Linked DNA regions of Homo sapiens: all the other regions are reported to be linked to region 4. Evidence: microRNA targets listed by miRTarBase, many of them from high-throughput screens and not tested one by one. Region 4 holds a microRNA gene; each other region holds the end of a gene's coding sequence.

The links. The annotated mature microRNA hsa-miR-7977 reads UUCCCAGCCAACGCACCA and lies in region 4 at 2,889-2,906, opposite strand. An mRNA with a match to its seed (bases 2 to 7 or 8) in the 3' UTR can be bound and repressed. Matches are read on the target gene's strand: a 7mer-m8 pairs with bases 2 to 8, a 7mer-A1 pairs with bases 2 to 7 and ends in A, and an 8mer does both.
Region 1: the mRNA of PSMG1 is a reported target of hsa-miR-7977. Seed matches in the 3' UTR shown: 7mer-m8 at 3,489-3,495.
Region 2: miRTarBase lists ZNF770 as a target of hsa-miR-7977. Seed matches in the 3' UTR shown: 7mer-m8 at 3,415-3,421 and 7mer-m8 at 3,282-3,288.
Region 3: the mRNA of LRRC59 is a reported target of hsa-miR-7977. Seed matches in the 3' UTR shown: 7mer-A1 at 2,199-2,205.
Region 5: the mRNA of RBM43 is a reported target of hsa-miR-7977. Seed matches in the 3' UTR shown: 7mer-m8 at 1,863-1,869 and 7mer-m8 at 2,000-2,006.
Region 6: the mRNA of NCKAP5 is a reported target of hsa-miR-7977. Seed matches in the 3' UTR shown: 7mer-m8 at 843-849.

What each region holds. Positions count from the first base shown.
Region 1 is chr21:39,171,696-39,177,007 of GRCh38, forward strand. PSMG1 (proteasome assembly chaperone 1) reads right to left here. Exons shown (of 7, transcript NM_003720.4): 7 at 3,074-3,969. The coding sequence ends at 3,895. It also overlaps the pseudogene PCBP2P1. Among named protein-coding and RNA genes, the nearest start is that of PSMG1, 9.1 kb to the right of the region's middle.
Region 2 is chr15:34,977,244-34,982,555 of GRCh38, forward strand. ZNF770 (zinc finger protein 770) reads right to left here. Exons shown (of 3, transcript NM_014106.4): 3 at 1,098-5,312. The coding sequence ends at 4,116. Among named protein-coding and RNA genes, the nearest start is that of ZNF770, 8.4 kb to the right of the region's middle.
Region 3 is chr17:50,379,657-50,384,797 of GRCh38, reverse strand. It overlaps LRRC59 (leucine rich repeat containing 59), which reads left to right. Exons shown (of 7, transcript NM_018509.4): 7 at 1,563-3,560. The coding sequence ends at 1,810. EME1 (essential meiotic structure-specific endonuclease 1) reads right to left here. Exons shown (of 9, transcript NM_152463.4): 8 at 4,297-4,486; 9 at 3,315-4,035. The coding sequence ends at 3,859. Among named protein-coding and RNA genes, the nearest start is that of EME1, 9.0 kb to the right of the region's middle.
Region 4 is chr3:176,512,697-176,518,008 of GRCh38, reverse strand. MIR7977 (microRNA 7977) reads right to left here and starts at 2,906; the gene lies at 2,858-2,906.
Region 5 is chr2:151,247,037-151,252,348 of GRCh38, reverse strand. It overlaps RBM43 (RNA binding motif protein 43), which reads left to right. Exons shown (of 4, transcript NM_198557.3): 4 at 685-4,409. The coding sequence ends at 1,443. Among named protein-coding and RNA genes, the nearest start is that of RBM43, 12 kb to the left of the region's middle.
Region 6 is chr2:132,669,844-132,673,843 of GRCh38, reverse strand. NCKAP5 (NCK associated protein 5) reads left to right here. Exons shown (of 20, transcript NM_207363.3): 20 at 539-2,056. The coding sequence ends at 555. LYPD1 (LY6/PLAUR domain containing 1) reads left to right here and starts at 3,639. Exons shown (of 3, transcript NM_144586.7): 1 at 3,639-3,963. The coding sequence starts at 3,912. RefSeq lists an enhancer at 3,813-4,000.

The DNA of each region.
Region 1 (5,312 bases), not on the chromosome of region 4:
GATGGCTCAGTCAGCAGCGTTGGGGAGCATATCCCCTGCCACCTGGACCTGAGCCCTGTACTCTCTCGTATTGCCTTGATCTTGCAACCACCTTTTCCAATGAGCCACAGTGACTAGCAGGGACCACCAGCATCAGGGTGACCAGGGGGTCCACTGGCAGCTGTGCTAGTGGTCACAGAGCTACTGATATCCTCTTCCAATCTTGCTTTGAAGATGGCGCTAGTGGGTCCAGCCAAGATGATAATTCTCTCAGAACAACTCCCTTCTGAGATGCTGATACATGCACCACTCTCCTCATGCATCTTAACTGATTCTCCTCTTTCTGATGATACTGCCAACTTCCTTTCCATGCATAAGTAGCCAGGTGGTGAGAATGACATTTAATCCAATTTCAATCATACCAGTGTCCATATCAAGCAGGGCTATGGGGAGCTGGACTTGGAGTGGTCAAGTCTTTGGCCAGTGGGGATGAAAACCAAGAACTCCAGGCAGGAGGCAACTCAGGGAAAAAGGAGAGCAGGCAGGGTGGGGCAGGGGTGGAACAACAGGGGTGGGCAGAAAGGCAACGAGAAGGAGGAGAAAAGGTGGTGGAGGAAGAGAAAGAAGGGAGAGACCTCAGGGCAGGTGGGAGAGAGCACAGCCTGTAGCTGCTCAGGCTGCTGCCTCTGCTGGTGTCAATCTCAGCTTCCTGTAACTTTTCTGCTTTCTAAACTTTTATTTTTTTAACTTTTTGACTCTTTTCTAATAACTTAGCTTAAAACACAAATACACTGTACAGCTGTACAGAAATATTTTTTCTTTATATCCTTATTCCATAAGCTTTTTTCCATTCAAAAGTTTTGTTTTTTGCTTTTTGTTAAAAACTGAGACACAGCACACACATTAGCCTAGGCCTACACAGGGTCAGAATCATCAATATCTCACTGTCTTCCGCCTCCATATCTTGTCCCGCTAGAAGGTCTTCAGGGACAGTAACACACATGGAACTGTCATCTCCTGTGATGACAATGTCTGCTTCTGGATACCTCTGGAAGGGCCTGCCTGAGACTGTTTTACAGTTCGCTTTTTTGTTACGAGTAGAAGGAATACACTCTAAAATAGCAAAAAATAGGATGTACATAAACCAGTAGCATAGTCATTTATTGTAAGTATTATGTACTGTTCATAGTTGTATGTGCTGGACCTTTAAACTGGCAGCACAGTAGGCGTGTTTTCACCAGCAACACCACAAACACAAGTAACACATGAGGTCTGACCTTAGGATGGCTACCACAGCCTAGGCGATAGGAATTTTTCAGTTCCATACGATCTTATGGACCCCTGTCTACATGCGGTCCGCCAGTGGTATGTCCTTATGTGGTGCATGACTATACACATCCTACTGGTTCTCTCTGGACTGCTCTAATATACTGGGCATATACTGTCTTGTCTGTGTCATCTGTTACTTCTCTATTTCTGTCCTGCATCTTAGGACACCAACTCAAGTTAGTCCTCCACATAATGGCTTTGTATTATACCCTATTTTATATATATGTAATATATATACAACTTAGATCACATACTATTTGTTGTTATTTTATATAATACAGATTTTAAAGTTGAAGTTTTGCTTCTGTTAAAATCTTTTCCATGAAATTTTTTAAATTTCCTTTCAGCTAGCTGCTGCTTCTCATACATCTCATTATTTGCTTTTGGAAAAAGCAGGGGTTCCTGACTTTTAAAAAATAGCTGTTTCCTACAGTCATGTTTTTCAACAGAATGCTCTTCTTCTGCATTTTTAATGCTGTTTCTATCCTTCGTATTGCTTGTTTTCTTCAGCTACTCTCCTTTGAATGGGAAACCTACCCAGGCCTGATGTCTGCTCCGGCTAGACTCGAACTCCTGGGCTCAAGCGATCCTCCTGCCCCAGCATCCCAGGTAGCTGGGACTACGGATAAGCACCGCTGTGCCTGGCTTGGTATCTGGCCCTAACGTGGCTCTGCTGCACTGACAGCCAACCTCCTGCACCTGCTGCCTGCTTCTTATCACAAGAAGAGGTTTACTCCTGGACAGTCTGAAGCAATTATGATTCTTTCCTTACCAAAATTATTAAAAACTACAATGCCCAGAGTTATCTGCTTCTAGGGTTCTCCCAGGATTACTGCCGATGCAAAACTTGTCCCCCAACTACTTCCACTCTTAGCCATTTGACACTGCCAAGCTCTGTGGTTCTCAAGTTAGCAAGAGGAAGTACAAGAAGGAATGAAGACTGACAGCTCCAGCTGCCCCCAGAGCAGCTCCCCACTCCTTTCTTACCACATCACCGTCAGCATCTTTGAGGTGGGGCACACAAAGGTGTGTCAACATGGAAATACCACCTTACAGTTCTTCAAAAGCATTCTTATATCATTATTCTCACAATTCAGCAAAGCAAGCAGAGAATTTCCTTCATTAAGCAGATGAAAACCTGGACCCCAAGGGAAGTAGATAACCACCCAGGGAGTACTGTCACCAGTATTATCTGTAGTTTACAGCTGAGAAAACTGTTGCTCAGGAAGCTTCAAGGCATCTGCCCAAAGTCACCTGGCCTGTAAGGGCTGGCCTGGGATTGAACATAGTCTGCTTTTCCAAGATCACTCTTCCTTACTTACCACACTGACCCTCAGCACAAGAAGAGGATTAGCTCCAGCTAGGACCAGATTCCAGGTCATATGATGTTACCTCAGGGCTCTGCAGGCACATTTCTGAATGAATGAAAACTTTTTTTGCAACAAGGGAAATGCTTAGATTTCTGCCTTCGGGATATATTCATAAGCATACTATGCACAAGACTTCCAATTCTTGATTATGTAAAGGAAACCAAGTTTACTCAAGAAGGAGTTAGAACACAGTATCTCCTTACCATACTTCTAATCATTACCAAAAACAGTAAATGAACTGGAACTAGAAAATATAAATGGGTAAGTACTCTAAATCTATAGTATGTAAATGATTCAATAACTAAAAAGGTGAAAAAGAAAGCAGAAGAGATAAGAAGCATTTAACTCCACCATTTTAAAATTTATTTTCATGAATGCAGTTCAGTTTGTGGTCCTGTGAAGTTGTGTGGCTACTCCGGGTTCATGATTCCATTCACACTCCTAATGATAACACATGACTGTAAGAGAACTGCTGACACGCGCAGAGCCAGCCTTGAAAGAGAGCCCTGGGAAAGTCTGGGTGAAGAGGCTATCTGTCAGATATTACTAAAAAGTGAGGACATACACATTTCTGTTTCATTTTTAGTAAATATATAATTTTGTTACTTTGTCATCAATTTTTACCCACAAGATAAAAAAAACTGCAGGACTCCTAAAATATCCAGAAACTTTCCACATATTAAGAATCACCAACAGGTCAATGAATAGTTACACCTAATTAACTACACTTTGCCACATGAATACCATCTGCTGATATCTGTAGCTTTGAAAAATTTAACTAAAGTTGGGCACAGTGGCTCACACCTGTAATCCCAGCATTTTGGGAGGCCGAGGCGGGGGAAATGCTTGAGCCCAGGAGGTCGAGGATGCAGTGAACCATGATAGCACACTGCACTTCAGCCTGGGCAACAGAGCAAGACCCAGCCTCAAAAAATAAATAAATAAATAAATAAGATAAAAATTTAACTATAGTACCTTAAAATATTCAAATACAACAATACTCCCACCTAGTGGATAAAAGGAAAATGCTTGGCTTATTTTGGTTGTGAATAATACCACCATAAATAAGGAATTAAAACTACAATTAATTTTTTACAATTTTATTCCGTTTCATCATTCTCAAAATATATCCCCCAAAAGTAATCTACAAAAGAGTGCAGGCTGCTCCCCTTAAAGGAATGGACAAGTAATATACACTACAAAACAATGTTTAAGATCATGTATAAATGTTACTCTGAATCTCATTTGTTGTCATCAATTTCTTTAGTATCTCAGTGCTTTGGGGAATATTCTGAAAGGAGAGAAAAAAGTGAATACAGTGAGACCCCAGGGATTCAGGCAGAGGCAACACCCCTCCCTCCACGACCAACAATCTCCACACTCGAGACTTAAAAACAGCCATGGGACAGGCGTGGCCTTTACTCTCCTTCTCAACGAAAAGGCAAGTGGGAAAGTCAGTTCAACAGGCCCTTTCCCTGCCACACTCGCCGATGATCTCCTGGCCTCCGATGGTCTCCTGGCCTCTGGAGGAAGTCTATGCTCTAACCCGCCCGACCTTCCCCACAAGATGTCTTCCTCCCCTCTCCACCAACACCACACTCCTCACGGCTCTCCTCACACTTTCCCACTCTGCTCACACTGCTTCCCTCTGCACACTTCTACCCAAGATTCATCCATCTTTCAAATCCAACTAAACTGCCACACAGGAAGAACTCAAAATAATTCCACCTTATTGAAAATACCACTTTTAAAAGGTCAGAAACAACGAACTGACTCAGGCTGATGTAATTGGTCATTAAGAAAACAGCACCCTGCAGAACCACCATCTTACCCTCCTGCTAATCATTATCTCCAAAGCAAAAATGAAAATGCTGAGTTAAATTTCCCCTTGAAAGTATATTCATAAAAGCTGAGTTTCCTTAAGCCCCATATGACAGATGATTTCCAAGTCTCTGAACAAGTCCAAGCGTTTATGACACACCTGTGTGCTACACACAGTCCTACAGCAGTAAACAAAACAGCCCAGCCCCTGCCCATGGGAACTCATCTCTGAGTTAAGTGGGATGAGGCAATTGGCTATTTAAACAAACAAGACGATCAGCATATACTTTGAAAGAGATGCTAAAAATAAATTAACTCCATGTGTCAGAAAGATTACCCTGGATTCTAGCTAATTTGCAAGATAAGCTTGCAGTATACTAAATCAGAGTTTTACAGCTGTACTCTTCAACAAATGGTTATTGATGGCTTTATTCAACATGCCAGGTATGTGGTAAACTTGGGATACCAAAATTAAAAATCGTGGTCCATTACCACAAGGAGCTGACAATCTAGTAACAAACTAATTTATGAGACCTGGGAAATGAGCTACTTCCAACAACTTACCACAAAAGTCTTAAAACTAATGGCCATTCCAGAATAAAACCGGGCTGAGGGACAATGTTGTTACAACCTCTTTCCTTTAAAGAAACCATGCTTAAACCAGAGGCTGTGGACTTCCAAAAAAGTCTCTTAAGAGAAAACAATGGAATCCCTAAACTACCTGAGATTACAGGCAAACATTTTCATGTACGTGTTCCAATTTTTTTAGAAAATGAGACCAAAGGTATAAACCAAGGGTAAGGAAGAGGTTCA
Region 2 (5,312 bases), not on the chromosome of region 4:
TTTCAGTTACCTTTCCTTTTTTTTCTCTTACTGCTAATAGAATTCCCTTAATAGAATTAGCCCTTAAATTCTAAGCCCTTCTAACTGGCAATAAGGAGAAATCTCAACAAGCTAGGGATTAAATGTTCCTTCCCTGTAGCTTCAAAAAAGCAGACACCATTCTGCATCATAAAACAGTACTTGGCAAATGTTATTTCTAACAAAGATTCTTGTAAAAGATTTCAAAGACTGTTGCTGCATCCTAAAAATATAATTCTAATTGGTTGTGTTATATAACATGTACATTGAAATCCGTGTTCTGTGCAAGTCAGTTTTAAGCACTTTTGTTTTCCCCCATAATCATGAAAAAAAAGAAACTTGACTCAGCTAAACTTTGAACAGATTGTCTGTTTCTAATTTGACACAAGATAGACACGATGGAAAGCAAAAAGAATAACAATACTAGTATGTATTGGAGAAACCAATTCTATATACTGTTTTTTAAAGAGATGATCTTGCTCTGTCACCCAGGCATGGAAGGCTGGAGTGCAGGGACATGATCATAGCTCACTTCAACTTCCAATTCTTGGGCTCAAGCGATCCTCCCGCCTCTGTGTTCTGAGAGCAGCTGAGACCACAGGTGTGTGTCACCACCTCACGTGGCTTAAAAAAAAATTTTTTTTTAAATGACGGTGGTCTTGCTTTGTTGACTATCTCAAACTCCTGGCTTCAAGCAATCCTCCTACCTCGGCCTTCCAAAGTGCTGTGATTACAGGCTTGAGCCACTGTGCCCGGCCCCTAATTCTGTATTTCTTTAGTACAAATCTGAAGAGAAAGGCCAAAAAGGAGGATAAACAGATAAATACATAGACCATACAACATACAATGGAGTTAACATATTCTTTTGTAGGTGATAGGAAGATGTCAAAGGATTTTTTTTTCCCACAGAAGGGAACAGCATGGAAATGTAACATGAACAAGAGCGTAAATGATCAAATATCCATGTAAATTTGGTGTAGAAGGTAGATTGGAGTGGACCTATAAAAGTATCCGACAATCAGTACCTTGGCTCCAATATTTTGTAATTCCCGCCCCGCCCCCCAAAAAAAAGGCCAAACTGTGTAACTTGGAACTTTATTTTTAAAGTATTCTGAAAATTTTCCAAGAATTTTAACCACCACCTACTTCCCTTAAACACACACACATTTTTATCTTACAATTATAACCCCTATTGCAGTACAAAACAAGAAACAATAATTCTAAGTTAGCCAGCCAATCAAACTACTTCAGTAAATGATCATACTACAGCCTGGAATCACTCAAACAAAAAATTCTTCTAGTTCTCTTTAAAGATATTTATCGTTTATTTTTTCATGAAACCAAAGTAATTGATTCAACAATACTAACAGTTCTAGCATGCAACAAACCATCTACTATCTAATGTTTAATCTTCTTAACATGTATATTTTCATTCCTATAAAGTTTCCATAAGAAGCTTGCAATGACAATAAAGGTAAATAAGTACAGTTGTCCCTTGGTATCCATGGGGTATTGGTTCCTGGACCGTCCCCCCAACCCACAGATACCAAAAATCCAAGTATACTCAAGTCCCTTACATAAAATGACATATTTGTATATAACCAACGCACATCCGCCTGTATACTTTATCCCTAGACTAATACCTAATGCAATGTAAATGCTATTTAAATAACTGTTATACTGTATTTTTATTTGTATTATTTTTATTTTTTCTAATATTTTTGATCTGCAATTGGTTTAATCCACAGATGCAGAGTACATGGATACAGAGGGCCAACTGTTTTGTTACAGGTACTTCAAATAGCACTACAGTACATCTTTGACAAAATTTTTACAATATTCCACCTTTCAATATGAAACAGCTTAAAAAGGCATGGGTCAAAAATAAAGTATAGTAGTATCACTTACGCAAATAAAGTCTCAGAATCATACAAGCACAACACTGTTAGGACTCTCCCTGTTTAGGCTGGGAAAAACATTATACAAAACATTTTCTTCAAATAAAATTACATAAATTGCTTAGAAAAATGCCAAAATCAATAATTTCAAACATATTAAGGAGAAAACCTTGAACATTATTGGAAAATATAAACTAGTTATTCCTTGCTTTTAACAGATGAGTTCTTGACAAGTTTTGTGTAAAGCAAATTCTGTAAACCATTATCTTGCTTGCACTGGAGGAACATATCTCAAGGAAACCTAAGAGAAAGTGTTCTTTAAAGCATGTGATTCTCCTGTTTTTGCTGGATGTCTGTATCTACATAATAAACAGGCACACTTCTACATCACTGGGTATTTTACTCAGACTGTCATGTTTCATCTCTGTAAATTAAACCCAAGTTACTTAAAAATCACCTGTGGTAAAAGAAGCAAGCAGATCACCCCCACCTACTATCCCTCCCGCCTCCCCCCTGTCAAAAGAAAGTTCTCAGTTTATGATGCAAAACTTACAATTGTTCATTTATCCACATTCTCAATAGAGGATTTTCCACTATATTTAAGTATGGCAGGATAATTACCCACCTGTTCCTCTTTTCAGCTTAGAAACATAACGGTTCATTCCTTTTATTGCTAGAGAATGTCATTCCTGAAGATTTTATAAACAAAGGCAAATATGAAGGAAAATTTGTAATTATGAAATAAGTCCTTTGTAGTAAAGAATATTTCCCAAATCATAACAGTTCTATTTGGAATGATACCCACAACTCTACAAGCATCTTATCCCTCTACAGGAATGACTACCTTATTAATTAAAATAAAAATTTAACAAGCATCAAAATAAAATTCTTTAGCAATAGACTCCTGCAAAAATAAAAACTAAAACTAGACCTAGTCATTGCCATTTGATCAAACTTAGAACAGGCTTAAATAACAGAACCACTCCATTAAAGAGGCATAGAAAGAAAAGTTTACTAAAATAAATGTAAAAGTCTTATGGAGATGAAGATCTCTAGAATAGTCTTAAGTCTATGACTACTGCTATCATTAATGAGCAAATAAATGACTTGAAATTATTCCTCTGAAAAGGTAAAACTCATACGTATTATGAAAAAGACTATGGCACTTAGAAAATATTCCTGGTAAGTAAACATGGTAAATATAGGTACATCCTAGCCTCTCGCCTACTTTTAAATTATTTTGAGAAAGATAGCACTAGCTGGGAGAAAAAAAAAATCCTTATCACCTGAAGGTGAAATTACCACATAGTCCTAAAAATAAATAGCTTTGAAAAGACCGTCGGGTGCGGTGGCTCATGCCTGTAATCCCAGCACTTTGGGAGGCCGATGCGGGTGAGTCACAAGGTCAAGAGATCGAGACCATCCTGGCCAACTTGGTGAACCCCCGTCTCTACTAAAAATACAAAAATTAGCCAGGCGTGATGGCAGGCACCTGTAATCCCAGCTACTCAGGAGGCTGAGGCAGGAGAATCGCTGGAATCTGGGATGCGGAGGTTGCAGTGAGCCTAGATGGCGCCACTGCACTCTAGCCTGGCGAAAGAGTGAGACTCCATCTCAAAAAAAAAGACCAATGAAAATAATACTATAATTGTCTCATCCATTTTCACCTTTAGTGTCTCTGTAGTTTTTTTAACTTACAAAAAAAAAAAAAAAATTACCAATGCAATTTGAGTCACATGTGGACAAAATTATGCTTTCATATGAAATGTAAAATAAATCAAATATAACAGGGCTATGTGCTGCAGCTAAAAGCCAAGTTTTGCCTCTCAGTCTTTTGAGTATATCTAAAAAGAGATGGCATGTCTTAAGGAATAATTCCTTTAAAAAATGAATGAGGCTAAATTATTTGTACAGCCATCATGGATTTATATTTTTCAATACAGCCAAAGTATATGTTTACAATATTAAAATGCCTACTTTATAGCATCAAATCATGTTCTTGCCTCTAAAATTAACTTGGCTGTTTCTAAAACATTGTATTAATTTTCTATGTATTCTACCTCCTTACTATGCAGGACAAGCAAATGCCTGTGAAACCATTCAGTTTAATGCAGGCCTTTCAATAAAAATGCATTTTAAATAATACAGGCTTTAAAAATAAGATCACCAGAGACCACAATTGTTAGTGGTTGCGACAATTTACATAACCGAATCTAAGGCAACCACTTTCCCTTGTGGTCGTTCTTTAAAGTGAGTAAGCTGATGTCTCTTCCAGTGAGGAGCCTGTCTGAATGTTTTGCCACAAACTGAGCATTCAAATGGTTTCTGCCCTGCATGAATTAGGTAGTGTCTTTCCAGTTTAGATGGAGATCGGAAACTTTTAGCACAAACACTGCATCGGTACAGGAAGACATCATTTTTCTCCTGATGCTCTGAATAACTGCAAAAAGGATTGCTTTGCTCTGATTCCAAAAGTACATTAGGAAGACAGGGTTGCCCGGTGCTACCAGGAATAAAATCCTGTGACTCTGCCTTAACTCCTGACATTTGATCTGACTCTGAGACCTCGTATTTTTGAACACCAGGAGCCTGACATTGTTGGGAAGCATTATAGTTAACATTATTACCTGAATGATTAGAAAGATTGTTGAAGTTTCCAAATTCTACTTGGCAAAGAGATGCATAAGGACTCTTTTCATTATGAGTCTGTTCATGTCTTTTTAAGTGAGCTGACTGTCTAAAAGATTTCCCACAAATATTACAGCCAAAGGGCCTCTGTCCAGTATGAATTAAATAGTGTCTTTTTAGTTTGGATATAGAAGGAAATACCTTCTCACATTTGTCACAAGGACATATCTTATGTCTAGTACGTATGTTTTCCCTTGGAACTGAAAAACCACACTGAAGTACCTCACAGTTATTAAAGAATTCCTCACCTGATGAACCACAGATTGACAAGTCTTTCTTATTCACTGAATTATCAATGCTTAATATGTTTTCTGTCGTAAGGATGCCTTTCAAATTTTTTCCCATATTTTGCCAAGAAAATGGCAAAGTCAATGTTTTCTTCTTTCTATTGCCAATTGTTTTATATGTTCCATGTTTGCCAAGAGAACCCACAAATGTTCTCTGGGTTTGTTCAGAGCTCTGCTCACCAGAAATAAGATCACAATTTCTCAAGAAACTCTTTTTAAATACTTTTTTCTCAGATTGAAAGTTATCTAATTTTTTACTCCTAGCACGCTTAAGCTTGGCCAAGATTTTTTTAACAATGGTTTTATAGTTGTAGCTTCTTTTGAACCTGCTTGGAATTTTGCCACTTCTAGCAGCAAAACAGCTGTGTTCATTGAGAATCTGCTCTGATTCAAAACACTTTTCACACTTTGGACATTGAAA
Region 3 (5,141 bases), not on the chromosome of region 4:
CACATGGTCAAGTTTCCTTTTTTTTTTTTTTTGAGACAGAGTTTCACTCTTGTTGCCCAGGCTGGAGTGCAATGGCGTGATCTCGGCTCACTGCAACCTCCGTCTCCTGGGTTCAAGAGATTCTCTTGCCTCAACCTCCAAAGTAGCTGGGATTACAGGCATGTGCCACCACGCCCAGCTAATTTTGTATTTTTAGTAGTGATGTGGTTTCTGCATGTTGGTCGGGCTGGTCTCAAACTCCCGACCTCAGGTAATCCGCCTGCCTCGGCCTCCCCAAGTGCTGGGATTACAGGTGTGAGCCACTGTGCCCGGCAAGTTTACTCTTAAAAGTGCCTTACAGTAAAGTTCTGTGGCTCAGGCCTTTAATCCCAGTGCTTTGGGAGGCTAAGGTGAGAAGAGATCACTTGAGCCCAGGAGTTTGAGACCAGCCTGAGCAACATAGAGACTCTGTCTCTACATAAATTAAAAAATTAGCCAAGTGTAGTGGCACACACCTGTGGTCCCAGCTACTTGGGAGGCTGAAGCAGGAGGATCATTTACGACCAGCCTGGGCAACAGTGAGACCCCTCACTGCTTGAACACTAGAGGAGTCATTTGGCCTGCATTCAGGGAGCCACATTGTATAGAAAACACATTTTTGTGTTTTACCTGACTATGGTTGAATTTCGTTAGTGACGTGGCTCCACATGCTGCAGAGGATCAGATACCCTCTGGGTGAAAAGGGACTCCTGAGGGAGAGGCAGGTGAGGGAAGGAGCTCTGTACAGAGAGTGGAGGCCTGTGGCCCTGCCCCTACTCACCCTTGTCTTGACCAGGACAGGGCCACAGGCCTCCACCTTCCTGATCTCACTGGTTTTTAATTTCCTTGTTGAAAATGAAGATCATACAGGGTAGTGATAAGGATTAAATGAGGAAGCAGGATCATGCAGTTCCTGGCATTGTGGATGATCAGTCAAGTTTTTAAAAATTTTGTCTAAAAATCTCAAAACCAATTTTTTTCTAATTAAAAATGTAACATATGTTCATTGCAAAGAATTGAGAAAAGATACCTATCTATCTAGATACATATATCAGAAAATGGCAACCACCTGTACTCCCCCATTCCTAGCAATCATCACTGCTTACAATATGGTGTATTACCTTTTGGGCTTTCTTTTTATATACACATTATATCATAATAATGACAATAATGATAAATCCTGACCGTGTTTCCCCAAGTGGACAGTACTCTGTCAGCGCTGGATGCTTCCTGATAAGCCTCTCCCTCTGCGATCCCAAGAGGCGTGGATCACCATGTTACCAAGGAGAACTTAGGACCCTGAGGGCTGTGAGCTACATGAGACACGCAGAATGAGTGCCAGTTGCAAATCTACCCCCTTCAGATCCAAGGGAAAAGTTGTTTCTGTTTCGGTCTGTGGAGACATTTTTTCTCTTCAGGGCCTGGGGAGTTTTTGCTTGAGGAAGGAATGTAGGTAGATCTGCACGGAGGAGACTAGCAGAGATTAGTATAGAGCAGGTCTCCTCTGACTGAACTTGCTTTGTCTACTGTTACTTTTCCTCCAGAATCTAAGTCTGGCTCCCGTCCCCGCAAGCCACCACCCCGGAAGCACACTCGTTCCTGGGCTGTGCTGAAGCTGCTGCTGCTGCTGCTGCTATTTGGTGTGGCGGGAGGGCTGGTTGCTTGTCGGGTGACAGAGCTGCAGCAGCAGCCCCTCTGCACCAGCGTGAACACCATCTATGACAATGCGGTCCAGGGTCTACGCCGCCATGAGATCCTCCAGTGGGTCCTCCAGACCGACTCTCAGCAGTGAGCTTGTCCCCAGCACCTGCTGCCTCCCAGCCTTGGAGTTTGGATTCCTATGGAATTGGGTTCTGCTGGACACAACCTCTTTTTAGCATCAGACCTACCTGCCATCATCAAATGGCTGCAGATTGGTACATGAGACCTCCTCTTTGTAGGACTTCTTCATTCCTTAGTCAGGGTTCCCTGAAGGAATGAGGAGAAATGGGAGGTGGCGGGGGGGCGTGGGGGGCAGTTACCTGCATGCCTAAAGGAGTAGGCTTGGGGGTGGGGAGAGAGAAAACATAGCCTTTTCTAGTTGTTATATAAAGCTGTGTAAAGGCAAGGCTCGTTTCTACTAAATGGTCAGCTGTCACTACATTTATACTTTTGTATGCCACAAACCCTTTCATTCCTCCCTGGGAATCAGGGTAGATCAGGAGGAACTGGGGGGGACTAGAACACCACGCTCAGTAAATCCAGTCTAAACTGGGAGGTAGGGGTATTCCTGTTTTCTTTAGGACCTCAGAGATGTAAGCATTTTAGCAGCCACACAAAATCTCTGGCTATGAAAGGGACTTCATGACCATCCAGTCCAATATAACACTTGCAGACAGAGAAACTGAGGTCTTCCATGACTTGCCTAGTCTCCCAGCTAGTTTGAGGCAAAACTGGATTCCCACTCTGGTATTCTTTCTTCCCTTTACATCATTTTCCCTCCTTTATAATGTCCTGAGAGACCAGAACTCACACCAGAATCGATTATTCCTCAGGTGAAGCATAGACTCTTTCATGGTAGACAGATTTCACGACTCAGAGATAGAAATCTCTTGCTATCATCAGGTCACGGGCAGCTCCTGTGGAGTCCTGCCCAACTTATGTGGCTTCCATAAAATGGCAACAGTCCAGGCTCCTTGCCTAATTTTAGAGCATTAACTCCCTAATTGCCAGTAAGCAAGGAGGTGGATCTCTGCAAACCTACACTGTCTATGACAGCTCTAGTTGTACTTGGTGTGACTAAATACCTCAAAGGCAACCTGCTTCTGCAGGTTTTGAAGTGTCAGCTTCATAAGACACTGAGGTTTAGAATTGTTTGATTCTAGACCATAACTGAAGGGCATAAATGGAAACAGGATATGAAGGGAAACAAGTAGCATCATGGAGCTGAAAAGTGGTGCATCACCCAATGGCTAGCACAAACAAGGATCACACTGTCCATTCTCTTGTCTGCTAAATTAAGCATTTTCTTGCCTCCTTTGCTTCATCTTTTCACAACAGCTGGATAGAGGGATCAGAAATGACTGTGTCATGGTGCTCATTCACTGCAAACTCCCAGTTGCAAGCTCCTTGGCTCCCCCGGAGGGAGCAAGAATCTCATAGTTCAGAGACACAGAGGGCCTTTTAGCCCTAATGACCTTTTGGATGGGACTGCAACTCATGACTATCCTGATATTGGAAGAAAGGACTTTGTTAATCTTCTCCCCCATAGCTCTGCTGCGTAGGTCTACATCTTACTCAGAATCACTACACATTCCTTTAGTCTTCCTCCAAGCTCCAGAGCCATTGGTACAAATGCTTTATTGAAACTAAATACATAATACACACAATGAGATGAAGACAATATAGAAGTCCGCATAGTCATCATAATCCCGTTCCTTGGCCGGTTGAGGCAGCTCAGTGGCTGAGCCCAGTCAAGCCAACCCGCAGCTTCACTCACGACTTCAAGATTTGATGCTAATTCTTTTGGATTTCTACAGTTATTAAATAAGTGTCTGAGTGGACTGTCTTTGTTCCTTTGTGTTTTGAGGGCTGGCTGGGTAGGAGTGGGGGTGGTTTGTCTGTGGCAGTGAATTTTTGCCAGGAGAGGAACATTAAATGCCAAAGGTAGGTGGCAGTATTTCAGTCTCTGCCCCAGCCGACAGGCAGAGAGACCTTCACAAATAATAAGACCCAAGAAAGACTGGGCCTCACCTAGGCTTGTGTTCCAGGAGGTGCTGCCAGTCTCTTCATTACAGTCAGGCTCTGAGGTTGGGGAAGTGGAAGTTTCCAGCTTTTCATCCTCATCCCTGAGGGCTAGAATCAGTCAGCACTATCTAAAGAGAGATGTGGCTGTAAAGTGGTCATCTGAAGGTAGATACGCCTGGATAGTTCTGGTCCAATGCGGCGAGAAGTGGATGTCACACCTTCCCCACGGCGCACCTGTATGTCTGCGAGCAAATTCTGGCGTTCTTTATCCGAAAAACACTGCTGATAAGCCTGGAAGTGGTAGATGACCTCTTAATATGGTACCATCCATGGTGATCCCTTCTCCATGAGCATGGAGGGTGCTACGCTTGGCTTGGGGCATGAGAACCTGTCCTCCCTCCCTGGGTCAGCATTAGCAACACTGATCTTAGTAGACCTGCACTGCTGACCTGTGAGGCCTTTGTGGGCCCTCAACAGTTGTCCATGGAAATCTGGGGGCCCACTGAGCCCGCAGGCAATGGGCAGTGACCCCTGAGCCCTGGAGCAGCATACCTGTACCAGGAGCTGTGGGGAGGGATAGGCATTCACAACTGCACTGGCCATTTCCAGGCTGACTCGGTTCAGCTGCTGAATCTGTCTCCTCCAGACTAGTGCGAGTCCCCTGCCAGCAAGGTCCACCTTCACCCCTCCAGCCCAGTCACTCTCCAGACAGAAGGAGAAGGTAGTTTCATCTCGGAGCTTCCTGCAACAGCGTGGTTGGAGAGCTGTAAGTTGCTCATTACTCTTCTACACCTGTTCCCCTCAAGTGGCAACTGAAAACCCCCCCACTGACCTTGGAAGAGGTGGGCGCCATGTTACATCTGGCCTTTTTGTGCCTTTGACAATTTGAGTGCTCACTTTGTTGCCAGGTATAGGGCCAGTTGCTGATTCATTTAAAAACTACATCTAGTCCATTATAGTAGAAGAAAAGATACCAGATTCTTTGGATATCTGGCAATCTGCAATCTATTTCTGGTTCTTCTAACTGCTAGGAGCTTAGACAAGTCAATCTCTTCAGGCCTCAGTCCCCTCAAGTATAAAATAAGGGACTTGGACTGGATTGTCTCTGAGGTCATTTACTTATTTTAAATTCTGACAGTGAACACTTCTTGAACTGAGTAGGCCAAAAATTTGCTTTCCTAGTGCTTATTACATTGTGATCTGACCTGTAATTAATCCTGGTAACTTGGCCTATGGTAACCTGGCCTATGATATCAGCCTGCAGAACACATACTTACATATAGGCGAAAGGAGAATATTTGAAAAGGCGCTAGGCTTGAGGACTCTTCCCAAGAATCCCCAGTGTGAGGTCAGCTCCTTCTGCCTCAAGCTTGAGAGACAATGGGCTGACTGCAGAG
Region 4 (5,312 bases):
CTATCAACATGACTGACCATTGATGATGTTAACCTTCACCATCAAACCAAGTTTGTGTTTGCCACAATTCTCCACTGTGAAGTTATTCCTTCAATTTCCATACTCTACTTTTTAAAACGGATATCTATGTTTACATACTTTTTGTCAAAATAATACATGCATATCAATTTGAAAGAAATAGAATTTCAAAGCTTTAGAAAACATTCAGTGGTTAAGCTCTATCATTCTCATCACAGAAGCAACTACTTTTGATGATTCTCCATTCCCACCCCAAGAGCTAGTTAATCACAAACCTATTTTCTGTCTCTACAGATTTTTCTTTTCTGAAAATTTCATATAAGTGGGATCTAATAATATGTGATCATTTGATCTGGCTTCTTTTGCTCAGTATAATGCTTTTATAATTTTATCCATATTATGACATATGTTCATTTTTTTATTGTTGACTAATATTTCACTCAATGGATATACCAATTTTTGTTTATTCATTTATAAGTTAATGAACATTTGAATGGTTTCTATATTTAGGCTCCTGTGAATGCTTCTATGAACTTTGAGATGTAAGTCTTTCTGTGGAAATAACTTTCACTTCTCTTGGGTAGGTATTTAGGAGAGAAACTATTAGGTCACATAGTAAGTTCATGTTTAAGTTTTTAAGAAGCTGCCAAACTATTTTCTGACTGCCTGTATCATTTTACATTTCCATCAGCAATATATGAAGTTTCTCCATTTCCCTACCAACTTTTGTTATTTTTGTCTGTCTTTTATGTTTATAGTTATTCAAATGCGAATGAACTGGTATCTTACTATAGTTTTAAAGGGTACTTACCTAATAATTAATGATGTTGAATGTCTTTACATGTGCTGATGAGTCTTTTTATTCTTTTTTGTAAATTGTCTATTTAATTTTTTTGTTTAAGTTTTTATTGAGCTTGTTGTCATCTATTTGGTTCTTTACATATTCTGGATGTAAATGCCTTATCAGAAACATATTGCAAATATTTTCTTCCAGTCTGTGGATTATCTTTTCATTCTGTCAGCTATTTCTTTAGAAGTACCCAAGATTCTAATTTTGATGACCAATTTGACTATAGTTTATTTATTTTAATGGATTGTGGTCTCAATGTTATATTTAAGAAATTATTGACTAGCCAAGGTCAAAAAGATTTTCTCCTGCATTTTCTTCTAAAAGTTTTACAGTTTTAGCTCTTACATTTAGATCTTTGATCCATATTGAGTCAATTTGTGTGCATAGTTTGAGATAAAGGCCTAAATTTATCCTTTCTGCATGTTGGATATTCAATAGTCCTAAAATTAGTTGTGGAAAAGACTGTCCTTTCTCATTGAATTGGCCTGGCAAATTTTTTGAAGAAAAAGTTGACACAATTAGAAGGCTTTACTTCTGGACTCTCAGTTCCATTACCTTATTTATAGGCCTATCTTTATGTCAGTACCACACTATTTTGATTTCTATAGCTCCATAGTAATTTTATTTGTTTGTTTGTTTATTTATTTATTGAGACAGGGTTTCGCTCTGTCCCTGGGCTGGAGTGCAGTGATGTGATCTAGGCTCACTGCAACCTCTGTCTGCCAGGCTCAAGCCATCCTCCCACCTCAGCCTCCTGAGTGGCTGAGACCACAGACATGTGCCACCATACTTGGCTAATTTTTGTATTTTTTGTAGAGATGGGGTTTTGCCATATTGCCCAGGTTGGTCTTGAACTCCTGAGCTTAAGTAATTCACCTGCCTAGGCCTCCCAAATTGCTGGGATTACAGGTGCGAACTGCTATGCCTGGCCTACAGTAATTTTAAAATCAGAAAGCTCTTTTTGTTTAATTAACGAAACTTCTTTTAAGACAACGATAAGCTTTAAACATTTTCTTTTTTATATTATCTCTCTCCTCCAGTTTTTGTTTTGTTTTGTTTTGTTTTCCCAGTACTTTTCTTTCACAAAAGAAGCCTTCTTCAACTGTTAATTCTTGCTTATCTTCTCACGTTTAAAGACGGAGATTTTAAAAACTGTTTGAAGCTCTGAACGCATAGGTAAGACTGGTATACTTTGAGCTTCATTGCAGGATGATGTTTCAACTATAGTCACTGTTTGAGCATAAGTCAGGGAATAATTTATAAAATATTTGGCAACATTAAAATAATATGTCTTCTTTACTGGGAGAAATCTGCCACTGATTTTCTAAGCGAAGAAGCAGAAAGCACATGGGAAAAAATGATGTCACTGCCATCTTGACACGTTTGAAATCACAAATTATAGAAAAGTTGTATTCCTGATCGAAGAATCACTAGTATTACAGGAGTTATTAAGAAATTATTTTAGGCAGCAAGAGAGGGGAAAAGAGTCCTTGGTAAGGCTTTTTCTTTTAATAAAAAAGCAAGCCCCAAAACATTTCTTTTCTAACAGAAAGTGGCCTGAAAAACCAGACCTGCAAGCATTGATATGCAAATGCTGGTGGCTAGAAGCCAGGTCCAACCAATATGGTGGTTCCCGTGACTTTTTCTTTGTTGCCACGTATGCAGAACATCATGGTGACCAGCCAGGTAGCCATATGTGCATATTTAAAGGCTAGGGTGGGAGAGCTGGCTTTTTTGCAGGCTATGTGAATGACACACCTGGTCAAACCAATCCCCTGGCTCCTATGCAAACCAAACACCACGTCGTCCAGCCTCCCAATATAACCGACTGCTTTCTGCTACATGTGGGGTTTTCCATTTGGAGCCCTCCTCCCTCTGTATGAGGGAGCTGTTTTCTTCTTTCTTGCCTATTAAACATTCCACTCCTTAAACCACTCCACGTGTATCCGTGTCGCTAATTTTCTCCGTGCGAGAACAAGGACCTTGGGTGTTTCTCCAGACAACAGACCCATATCATTTTTGGTGCGTTGGCTGGGAAACCAAGGTACAATATCCATTGGGGTTGGTGAGCAGAAGAGCAAACTCAAAACCTGTCCTTTCATTCCGAGGCTCTTGGCTTCCATTTTAAAATCAAATCAAATCAATAACAGCATCTGTCAACCATCTAGATATGCTTAGTGTGGCTGCCATTCTTAAAGACTCGCATGTCAGCCTTGCTGGGGAGAACATGAAGACCCCCCTCCCTCCAATACCCTGGGTCATTGGGAATGTTGGCCGTGCTTCAAACCAGCTTTTCTGTTCATGGGGAAAATTAGCCATTGCATAAGGCGGGGAAAAGTTCTGAAGCAACTGAGAATTTCTGGCCAGGGCATTTCCTAGTGTTATTCAAAAGCTTCTGGACCGGACTCAGCCTCCAGCAGCCTGCCCAGGTGTTGGTAAAAGATCCCCAGTTATCCTGTCGCAAAACTTTTTTTCTGTTTCTATCCACGGTCGCTATGCCTCTTATTCTCTTTGTGTGTCGAATGTGTGGGAATTTTTACAGCCTAGGGAAGTAATCCTGTTAGGCAAGATCAGGAAATGCTGTAATAACCGGGGCTATAGCTCAGGAAAATGCTGTTGCAATCTTCTAGGAACAGAGGTCTCTGAAACCCCGGTTGTGAGATGAGTCCCTACTATGCTGCTGGTGGCACATAGTATTCCTAAGCCAACAGCGCCACCTAGTGGAAATAGACACCCTCTTCATAAGACGCATTGCTTGTCCGCTACAGTCCACCGCAGCTTCCTAATTTTTCCTTTTTGCCCCTTCCTACTGGAAACCAGGCTTTATGCTGCTTCTGTGAACAGGAAAATTCTGCCTTCAACAATTAGGAGTAAATTGTCCTCTGCAGCCAAATTTGAGTCCTGATCCTGTCCCATCAACAGGAAAGTCACGATTAGGCCCCCACATCCCTTTAAGGAAACTATTCTGTCTCCAATAAGACAGTCCTTAATTAGTAAGGGGATTTTAAGTCTGAAAGTTAACCAGAACCATTTTTCTAAGGGTTAAGGCTTTAACACGGGCCATAGTAGCAGGCAATCTAGCACATTCCCTCCATTAAAGGACACTTGCCTTTTATATAATCTTTCCCAAGGTCAATTTTTTTTAAGGGAGGCACACAGGTCACACAAGTCTAGGAAGTCAAAGGGAAATCACAGGCAGAGGACTAGAGCTACTTGAATGAGCATGACTAGCCCCAGTTGCTTGGTTTCTTTGGTGCCATGGCTTGGAGGGTCACACATACAACCATGGGCAGCACATTTAACAGGGTGCTGGGACCCAGGAACCAAGGAAGGAAAACAGTTGGGGGGACGCTCCCACTGTCTTCTTCTCCACTCTGGGTTATACAGAGAGAGGAAGGAGACAAAAGAGACACCTTTTTCTCACTTCTCTTTCTAGATGGGTAACAGATCATGTTCAGCATGTACTCCCCTGGAGTATATTCTAAAGCACTGGGACTGCTTCAACCCTGAGACTTTGTAGAAAGAGCACCTCATATTCTATGGCATAAGGGCATGGCCTTCTTACCATCTTTAAGACAGACAAACCTGGCCTGCTGGGGGGAGCCTTCATTTTAATACTGTCCAACAATTAGATATTTTCTGCAGATGGAAGGACAAATGGTCTGAGATACCCAATGTACAGGCTTTCTTTGCCCTGCGAGACGACCCAGACCTTTACAAGCTTTGTACAATTGACCCAGTTCTTTTAGCAGCATGACAGGCAAGCCCACAAGGAATAGTCCCCCAGAGCTAAAGCAGATTCCAGAGGAGCAATCTGAGACAGCTATTGAATGTCTCAACTCAGTTCCCCTCATCCAGAAGCCCCTCCAATCATACCATCAGGTCCTCCAGGTCCACCATCTCCAGTATTACCCACTTTCCCCACTTCATTCTTATCTCTGCAGGAAGTGCCTGATGAAAATCGTGCCATGAGGGTTCACGTTCCCTTCTCATTACAGGACCTTAAGCAATTAAAGGGAGACTTAAGCAGATTTTCTGATGACCCCAATAAATATATAGAAATTTTCCAAAATTTAACTCAGGTGTTTGACCTCACATGGAGGGATGTTATGTTGCTCCTAAGTCAGGCCTCACTGAAGCTGAAAAGCAAGCAGTTCTGCAGGCAGCAGAAAAATATGAAGATGAACAACATCTCCTATGGCAGACCAAAGAGAAAAAAAGGAGATAGGGAAGGTGAAGAAGTAATGGAAACTCCATTCCCACTAGGAAGAGAAGCAGTTCAAGTAGACAACCCTGATTGGAACCTCAATAACTCAGCAGATAAATGGAAAAGAAAGCACTTTTAAATGTGCATATTAGAGGGCCTACGATAAACCAGGGCTAAACCTCTTAATTACTCTAAACTGTCCATGATAGACCAAAAACCAGATGAGAAACCCACAGC
Region 5 (5,312 bases), not on the chromosome of region 4:
GTGTCCCTATGTTGCCCAAGCTGGTCTCAAACTCCTGGACTCAAGCAGTCCTCCCACCTCAGCCCCCCAAAGTGCTGGGATTACAGGGGTGAGCCACCACGCCCAGCCTCACTTAATGCTTTTAAAGTGATGGTAAACGCTTATACTGTCATGGATGATGCCAGGTACCAACCTAAAGGCTTATTTTGGGAAAAAACAATTAGAATGAACATTAAAAAGAAGCTTTGAAGAGACAGAAAGTAAGAAAAAGAGGAAAAAGTTAAAATCCAAAGCAATGGTTTACCAACTTGATTCTGTAAGACACTCAGAGTTGTATGCAGCCATCTGATGAACTTGACTGGGGGCAGGAATGACTCCTGGGGGAACCCTATCCAAGCAGAACCAGAACAGTTTGTATGTATTGGTTCTGCATAAAACTGTTTCAAAAAAGAATTCTGCCTCTAAAAATTATTTGAGCCTGTCTGTTTTGGGGTATGTGGTGAGGGAGTGTGAATCCCAAATTGAACAAAATGGGATAACTTTGATGGGCTGCCCTGGTGCAAGAAGTCAGGAAGTCTGGGGCAGGCAACTGGGGCCTGGTTTATTGCAATTTCTGCAGAGAAAAGAAAGTGGCAGAAAAGAACATGTTTATGTAGTCTTTCCCACTAGGCAGTACTGTTTTCATTTCTCTCTTTTTAATTTCAGATCTTCAGCTCTGTAAATGCCATCCTTGATCTTTCTGTTTTTGGAAAAGAAGTTACTCTAGAAACTCTGGTAAAAGACCTGAAAAAAAAAATCCCGAGTTTAAGCTTCAGTCCTTTGAAACCCAATGGAAGAATCTCCGTGGAAGGATCATTTCTGGCTGTCAAGAGGCTCAGAGAATCTTTGCTAGCAAGAGCATGTTCTCTCTTAGAAAAAGACAGAAATTTTACCAGTGAGGAGAGAAAGTGGAATAGACAAAATCCCCAGAGGAATCTACAGAGAAGTAATAACTCTTTGGCATCAGTCAGGACCTTAGTACCTGAGACTGCTAGAAGTGGAGAAATGCTTGTGCTTGACACAGATGTTTTTCTTTACCTGAAACACAAGTGTGGATCTTATGAAAGCACACTGAAAAAATTCCACATTCTGAGTCAGGAGAAAGTGGATGGTGAAATCACCACAATTTGTCTAAAAAGCATTCAAGTTGGTTCTCAGCCAAACAATGCAAAACATGTAAAAGAGCTCATTGAGGAATGGTCACATGCTCTTTACTTAAAGCTTAGAAAAGAGACATTTATTTTGGAAGGAAAGGAAAATAGAGAGAAAAGAATGATCAAAAGGGCATGTGAACAATTAAGTTCGAGATACCTTGAAGTCCTGATTAACCTTTATAGGACACACATTGACATTATAGGATCTTCTTCTGACACTTACCTGTTTAAAAAAGGGGTCATGAAATTAATAGGGCAAAAGGTTAGTTAATAAAATCTCAGCAATATAGTCATAAGGGCTGCTTTCTCTTGCTGAGCAGTGACCATTGCCATGAATGAGGCTAGCTTTACACACCGTATCTCATGAATCCTTATAGTCATCCTTCTTTGTCAGTGTTGACTATCCTCATGTTACAGCGGAAGAAACTAGGATTTGGAGAAGTTAAAACACTTTTCTGAAGTTATCCAGTTGACAAAGAATGAGGCTGTGGCTTAGCCCAGTCTATCTGATTACACAGATAATATCTAAGGAATAAAACTTTGAAAAAAACTCACCAAACTTTTTTTTTTTTTTTTTTGAGATGGAGTCTCGCTCTGTTGTCCAGGCTGGAGTGCAGTGGCGTGATCTCGGCTCACTGCAACGTCCACCTCCTGGGTTCACACCATTCTCCTGCCTCAACCTCTGGAGTAGCTGGGACTACAGGTGCCCACCACCACGCCCGGCTAATCTTTTTGTATTTTTTTAGTAGAGATGGGGTTTCACCGTGTTAGTCAGGATGGTCTCCATCTCCTGACCTTGTGATCCACCCGCCTCGGCCTCCCAAAGTGCTGGGATTACAGGCGTGAGCCACTGCGCCCAGCAAACTCACCAAACTTTGAAGGAATCTTACTTTCTCTGTAACTCCAAATTATTAGAGAATAATAATTATTAAGAAGTAGCCTTAACATATGAGAAATTTGAAAGGTGATTATTATGCCATGGGCAATTTCTTAACATTTACAGTTTGTGTTTACTCCGTGTAGAATTAGAATACTGGCAAAAATCACTGGGGAAACTACTTAGATGGAAAGCATATCTTATGCAGGTAATCATTATTTGACTAAATTCTATTGTTTCAAGGCTGCTGGCCACATAGGATGTTTTTACTATTTTTTTAGCCTAAGTGCTTACATAAAATGGTGATTCTTTTATAATTGTGCAAGTTGATAATATTAATTGAGTCATTCTTGTCACATCCAACTAAAACAGACTCAAGAAGCTAGGGGGAAAAAGTACTTGGGACACATAATATTGCTCCAAGAATGTAATTCTCTGTGAGCCTGGCTACTGAAACTGCTTGCTGTAACCTGAGACCAGTTTTGTCTATAGCTGCTGAGATAACTTGCTGTAACTCTAGGACTAATTTTACCTATGGCCATTGCCCACCAGTTGGAGCTTGCCAGCTCCCCAGGGCTTTACTAATACCAATGAACTTTCTCTTAAGATCACAAGTTGGCCGGGCGTGGTGACTCATACCTGTAATCCCAGCACTTTGGGAGGCCGAGGCGGGTGGATCACAAGGTCAGGAGATTGAGACCATCCTGGCTAACATGGTAAAACCCCATCTCTACTAAAAATACAAAAATTAGCCGGGCATGGTGGTGGGCGCCTGTAGTCCCACCTACTCGGGAGGCTAGAGGCTGAGGCAGGAGAATGGCGTGAACCCGGGAGGTGGAGCTTGCAGTGAGCCAAGACTGCACTACTGCACTCCAGCCTGGGTGACAGAGCGAGACTCCGTCTCAAAAAAAAAAAAAAAAAAAAAAGAAAGACCACAAGTAACATTCTTAGTTTTAAATAAAACCCTCAACCTTCTCTTTGTTTGTTGGACATACTAAAGATCACCTAGAATTGAAATTCTTTCTTCTCAAAACATTAAATTTAGTTTTGTGTCTACATTTTCATTTTGACTTTGACATGCATGGTGTCAGAAGTGGGATACAAAGCTGACTCACCTCATGGAGAATCATTGGCCTTTGGAGTTATGGCATGAGGTACCCATGTTGGGGCCCTTTGAACCCCCTACACCCCCACCACTTTCACAGGTAATCCTTTCTCCCTCCAGTAAGTATCTCTTGGACAGAACTCTCAGATATGGTTCGAGTTCTGTTTTATTTGGGATATGATTAGGGAGAGGTCTTTCCCCCTCTTGTTTGGTAGATCTGTTGGGTAGAATTATTTTCCCCCTGTTGACCTCAGCTGCGAGGTTTGGACCTTGAGGCTTGGATGAGGGAATTTTTCCCTTTCTTTGGAGAAGGCTTATCATTCTTACTGGTAAGCATGTATTTTATTTTCTGTCCTGTCTTGTATTTATTTGGCCTTTGTGTATTCAGTGCTTGCATTTACTTGGCTTTTGCATAGTTGACATTAAATCAGAGCACCCACGAAATGAGCTCTCAAAGTTCAAAGGCATGCCAGAATATTTTCTGGAACTCCAGCTAGTAACATATTCAAACATTACAGGGATCATTTAGTCTGTTTTTCTTAAAACTGAACTAAAAGATGGAGGCTATAAAATCATACACTCCAAATAAGATATGCATATTTCATTGATATCTTGAGGCTAAAAAAAAATAAAAACAAAAACAAAACACATTCAGGATACAAATATTGCCTTGTTAAAAAATACTGTCTCAAAGGTGGCTGAAACTTTCTTTTCTAGACCTTTCCCCTCCCCTTCTTACAGTATCCCCTCTTTATCCTTCTCTAAACAGCTATTCTAACATACTACTTAAATAAAAACACTTGAAAACCAGCAGATATAAAACAAAGTCATTTTGACCTTCCTACTGTTTTTTTTTTAAAGCAAAGATTAAATTCCCATGTAAAACCTTCCTCCCTATACAAAAAAGAATAGCAGCATTTTTATCTTCAATGACAAAGAATTGAGTCCAAGAAAATACTGTATAAACCTTGTTAAAAATCACTCTTGTCTTTTGGTCCTACTCACATAATTCAGCACACTTTCACAGTTAACTATTTTTTGTTCAATTTAGTGCACTGGTGAGTGACTCAAACTGCTTTATCCCAAATTTGATTTACAGCCTTTATAAGATTGCCTATTAAAAAAGCTTAAAGCTTATCCTTAGCCCATTTTGTCAGAAAAATAATTTGCATCTAATCATTTTTATAAACTGGTGAATTTACGTGTTTTACTATATCATGACTAAAATTCTAAAATAAAAGTTTTAATATCTTTATGTATATGTGTTTAAATGTGTTTATGTGTATGTACATATATTATGTTGAATGTTGTATCTACATAAAAGCTGGTGTAGTCAGCCAGAAATCCCTTAACAAATTTTATTCTGATTGGTTTAAATAAATGAGCACTCATATAAAATGTATAGTAATTAACCCCCAGTTTTTTTTAGTTGATGTGACTTAAGTAAATCTTTGATAAATTAATTGGTTTTAAAATTGTGGATAAAATAAAATTAGAAATGTCTTCAAAATTGTCAGCAGACATTTTTGTCTGGGTTTACTGGTCAGACAGTTTTATATTTGCCTCTGCTAGATGTTTTAAAGTCATAAAGCCTAAAACAAAATGATCTTTGTTTATATAGTTTTTAAATAAATATGATTATATTGTTGTTTTAATAAAAATAGCTGTAACTTTTCTGAGTTAGCAACAGGGTGGCTGTTTTTAACTTTAAGGTTCTTACTTAAACCTTAATATCAAGATAAATACTTCATGGTAACAGTCTATAAAACTGATTAATAAAAACAATGACTAGTTCTATCTCAATTTTCATAAATCTAGGAATAATTGAGAAATAAATCTTATAAATGAAATAAACATTTATAAATGAGCTTTTCATGTAATTTTAAAATCTTAAAATTATGTTAAATGATACTCATTAAATGTCTGGATCATATCCAAATTAAAAAAAAATTGCTAAATACATAGACATTTGTTCTTGGCTTCTTAGGTTTTATAAAAGGACTAAAAGTATTTCGGTCTATTAATCAAAATATAAATTTAGGAAAATACAATTGATGTATTAAAAATTATATGGTAAATTTTTATCCTAAGATAAAATAATTGGTTGTTAAAAATTTTATTTTTTATTTTTATTTTTTGAGACCGAGTTTTGCTCTTA
Region 6 (4,000 bases), not on the chromosome of region 4:
AACCTGGAGATCTCTTTCAAATATCTTAAGTCCTATAAAGGGACAAAATACTAAAATGGCAATGCTTCTAACAAGCTTAACATGTATTCAAAAATGGCAAGTTAGGGGATTTTTATGTCTTTTTTTTATTAGAAAAAAACATATTACCATAACTTCTGGCTGAAATTCAATACCTACTCATATTTAGAAAAAGTACAGCTAATACTTAGCAAGGAAAGAGAGGAGTTTGAAACTTTGATGAAGAAAAATAAGGCACTTTACCTGAACAAATTTCAAATGGATCCATTTAAAATGAAATTAAGTGGCACTTAATTTGCAAATTGGGACCTATTTATCTCAGTAAAATGATTAAAGTCCTGATTTATCCCTAAAATTGGCTTTATTATTACATCTAATTATACTAGAAGATTATTAAAGACTTGTAGGTTTTCTCTGTCCCTTTAAACTGTACTTTATACAGACAATAATTGAATATTAGATAGGATAACTTGATTTTCCAAAGAAATATGTTTCTAATATTTTCTTCTTTTTATTGCAGAAATTGAGACAACTTGAAGAAACAAAAGACGATCCCGAGAATAGATTATCGAAAATTTCCCTAGAGTCATTCAATAAATTTAACAGCAATACTGTGATTTTATTAGAAAAAGAGAAGAACTCTCTGAACAAGGTTGAAGGACAGAAGGAAGAAAAAGAAAAAAATGAAGAGACATCTTTGAGTAGTTCAGATAGGCCTGGGGTAGACAACTTGGAATCTTTGAGTGATTCTTTATATGATAGCTTCTCTTCCTGTGCCAGTCAAGGTTCAAATGATGTATAAAGGACATCTCTTCCCTTAGTGAGCTGGGACTGGAGCGCTTAAGAAATGATGGGTGGGGGGTGGGGGGTGCACCGCTTGATAGAGATAACAATAAACTATTGCAGTACCAGAGCCTTCCTTGTCAAATTCACAGCAGGCAACCCACCAGAGCTTATTTCTCTGACAGGGCAATAAAGATAGACTCCATTTATTGTGTTTCAAGAGGATTAAGCGTAAACACATCTATGATACAGAATCCTTAATTTTGCACTTTTTTTGAATATTTGTACAGAAGTTGTAAATTTTTTGGAAGAGAAATTATATTTGTAGCAAAAAAAGACAGCAATAAATGGAATCAGTGCCATGCTCTTGAAATAATGTACTAAGTCTTAGAAGTTGATGATAATATATATTTTTTAAAATCCCAACTGAAGTTTTTGTGAAGTTCGTTGTCCTGGTCCTCAAATTGTTTGTGGGTACACTCTGTAAACCTACAACAGGGCCTGCCAAAAAATCGGAGGGTTCCTCCTCATCTCCATCTCACAAATCTCAATTTGATGGAAATGTTCATTTTAGTGTAATTTCAGATTCGTTGCCAGAGATTCAGGTGATAGTAATAAGTGTCATTCTGCTTCTGCTGAAAAATGAAAAGGGTCCTGAAGTGTGGACACTGATTGGGAGTGTGACATTGTATCAGAAATGACCGAATTCTATTCCCAATACCAGTTTTTCCTTCCAGACATTTCTTTAGATTGTCTTTTACTTAGTGCTTCTCTATGATCCTGAATATTATTTGATTTTTATCTTCTTGCTCTTTTTATTAAAATCTGGGCACTCTAAAAATGAAAACAAATTTCTATTTGCAATGTTCACTTTTAAAAATAAAATTAATGGTGCTACGAAGAATTCTTTTTAATATCCTTTTTTTTCTACAAAGACTGTTTATATGTAAGGATAAATTCTATTTTAAAGGTTATGTGTATTTTTTCTAGATGTGAACTATTTATAATTACTTATGTACAGGAGCTTGTAAACTAGGCCCAATAGAAATATTTTTAGGATCTATATGGCTACTTTAGCACATAATTGTTTCTTTAAAGAGTATTGTATGATCAGTGTTATTTGGTTAATTTGTGCAATTTGTTTTATTTTATCTTAAATGAAAATTATGTAAAATGTCCTTGTCTTTCAGACTTTAAAAAATCTTTTTGTTTCCTTTCTGAATAAAAGTTATATCACATTTGCACCCTCTGAAAACAGAAAATAACTTGCTCAAGGACCTTTTGGCCCAGTCAGTTACTTGAATCATGACTCACACGTGCTCTTACAATGGGTTCCCAGAAGGAATAAATAAATTGGCCCTTTTGCTCCAGAGATAGTAATTTAGCCAATTGTAAGATCAGAGTCTGCAGACAGGTGAGTAATGGTCAAAGCATTTCAGTCTCCCCGAGGGGTTAACCAAATAGAAATGAAAGAAGGGGGAGAGGGAGGGAGGGAGGGAGAGAAGGAGCCTGAGGCAGATATGGAACGATCTCTGCAGAGGAATTACAAAGAAAGTCATTTAAGCCCCTTTACAGACCAGCTCTGCTGGGAGGATGCAGAAATAAATGATCAGCGTCCCGGCGTGAGAGAGCTGCCCCCAGAAGTGGCCGGGGGAGAAAAGGGTGAAGAGGAGCTAAAGCTTAGGAGGCGATTTCCACGGAAATGGATGCTCCCTAAGGATGTGCGGAAAGGGGATGGGAATGTGCGGATTGGGGGCGGGGGCACCAACGCACTCCGGCGGGCAAGCGGTCTCCCGCACCACCTGCTGCAAGGCTCGGGAAGGAAGGCGAAGATAGCACCGGGGCATCCCCGGGAGTCCGCAAGGTGGGTCACTTGGACTTTGCGGAAAGAAGACGAATTTGAGGGGTGTGGGGAGCAGCCAGAGGCCGAGTCCGAGGCTGGGATGGCCTTTCAGGAGAGGACGTGGGAGTATGTGCTAATAATCGGTGGCTTTGGGGAAAGCAGAATGGAGCCGGCTGGCGTTTGGGAGACAAGGAATGGAGGAGAACAACCCTCTTCCTCACCCTGATTTGCTTTCTGGTAGGACCTCACGGCAGGTGTCCCCGGGACGGCGTTCTCCTAGGCTAGGCGACCAGGGCGGTGTCAATGCACCCTCCAGCGGTGCGCGCAGGCGGGAGAAGGGAGGGCGGCCCGGGCAAGTGAGACAGTTAAGGCAGTGTCCCCACCACACCCCCACCCAGATTGGCCACGCCGAGCTGGTTCTTGACAGAAGGCCTTCGCGGAGGAAGAGGGGGCACAGCTGCACAGGACACCCTACGGAGCCTGCGGGCGTGGAACTTTGCCAGGCGCACGGGAACGCGCGCCCTTCCTGTCAGCCTCCCGGGGCGCCAGGCTCCCGCGGCCCGCAGCGGGACAGCCTCAGTTGTGTGGGCTGGACCCAGTCGCTGGGGTACCGACCAGTCCTGGAAGGCGCAGAGGACGTGGAGTGGGGAGGCTGCCTTCCTATGTGCGAAGGGCCAGCCGGGCACGCAGTCCTCAGACCCTAGTCCGCACCCGGCAGGTCCCCACGGCACCTGCTGCGCCCTCCTCGCCGCTCCCCCAACCTCCCCATCTCAGAAAACTACCAGTTCTCTCCCGCCCCCCGGCGCCCCTTTCCCAGGAACGTGCGGAGGCGGGAGAAGAGGAAGACAGGAAGGGGGTGGGGATGTGAAGCGACCGTCCCAGCCTTCCCCGCCCGCCACCCCCACCCCAACTCGGCAGCCGTCACGTGATGCCTGGAGTGGGAGGTGGGGAGAAAAGGCGAGACTTTTGTGGGTGCTCCCGATCGCCAGTAGTTCCTTCAGTCTCAGCCGCCAACTCCGGAGGCGCGGTGCTCGGCCCGGGAGCGCGAGCGGGAGGAGCAGAGACCCGCAGCCGGGAGCCCGAGCGCGGGCGATGCAGGCTCCGCGAGCGGCACCTGCGGCTCCTCTAAGCTACGACCGTCGTCTCCGCGGCAGCAGCGCGGGCCCCAGCAGCCTCGGCAGCCACAGCCGCTGCAGCCGGGGCAGCCTCCGCTGCTGTCGCCTCCTCTGATGCGCTTGCCCTCTCCCGGCCCCGGGACTCCGGGAGAATGTGGGTCCTAGGCATCGCGGCAACTTTTTGCGGATTGTTCTTGCTTCCAGGTGAGAATACCCAGAGGCCAGCAGCCGAGGCCAGGTG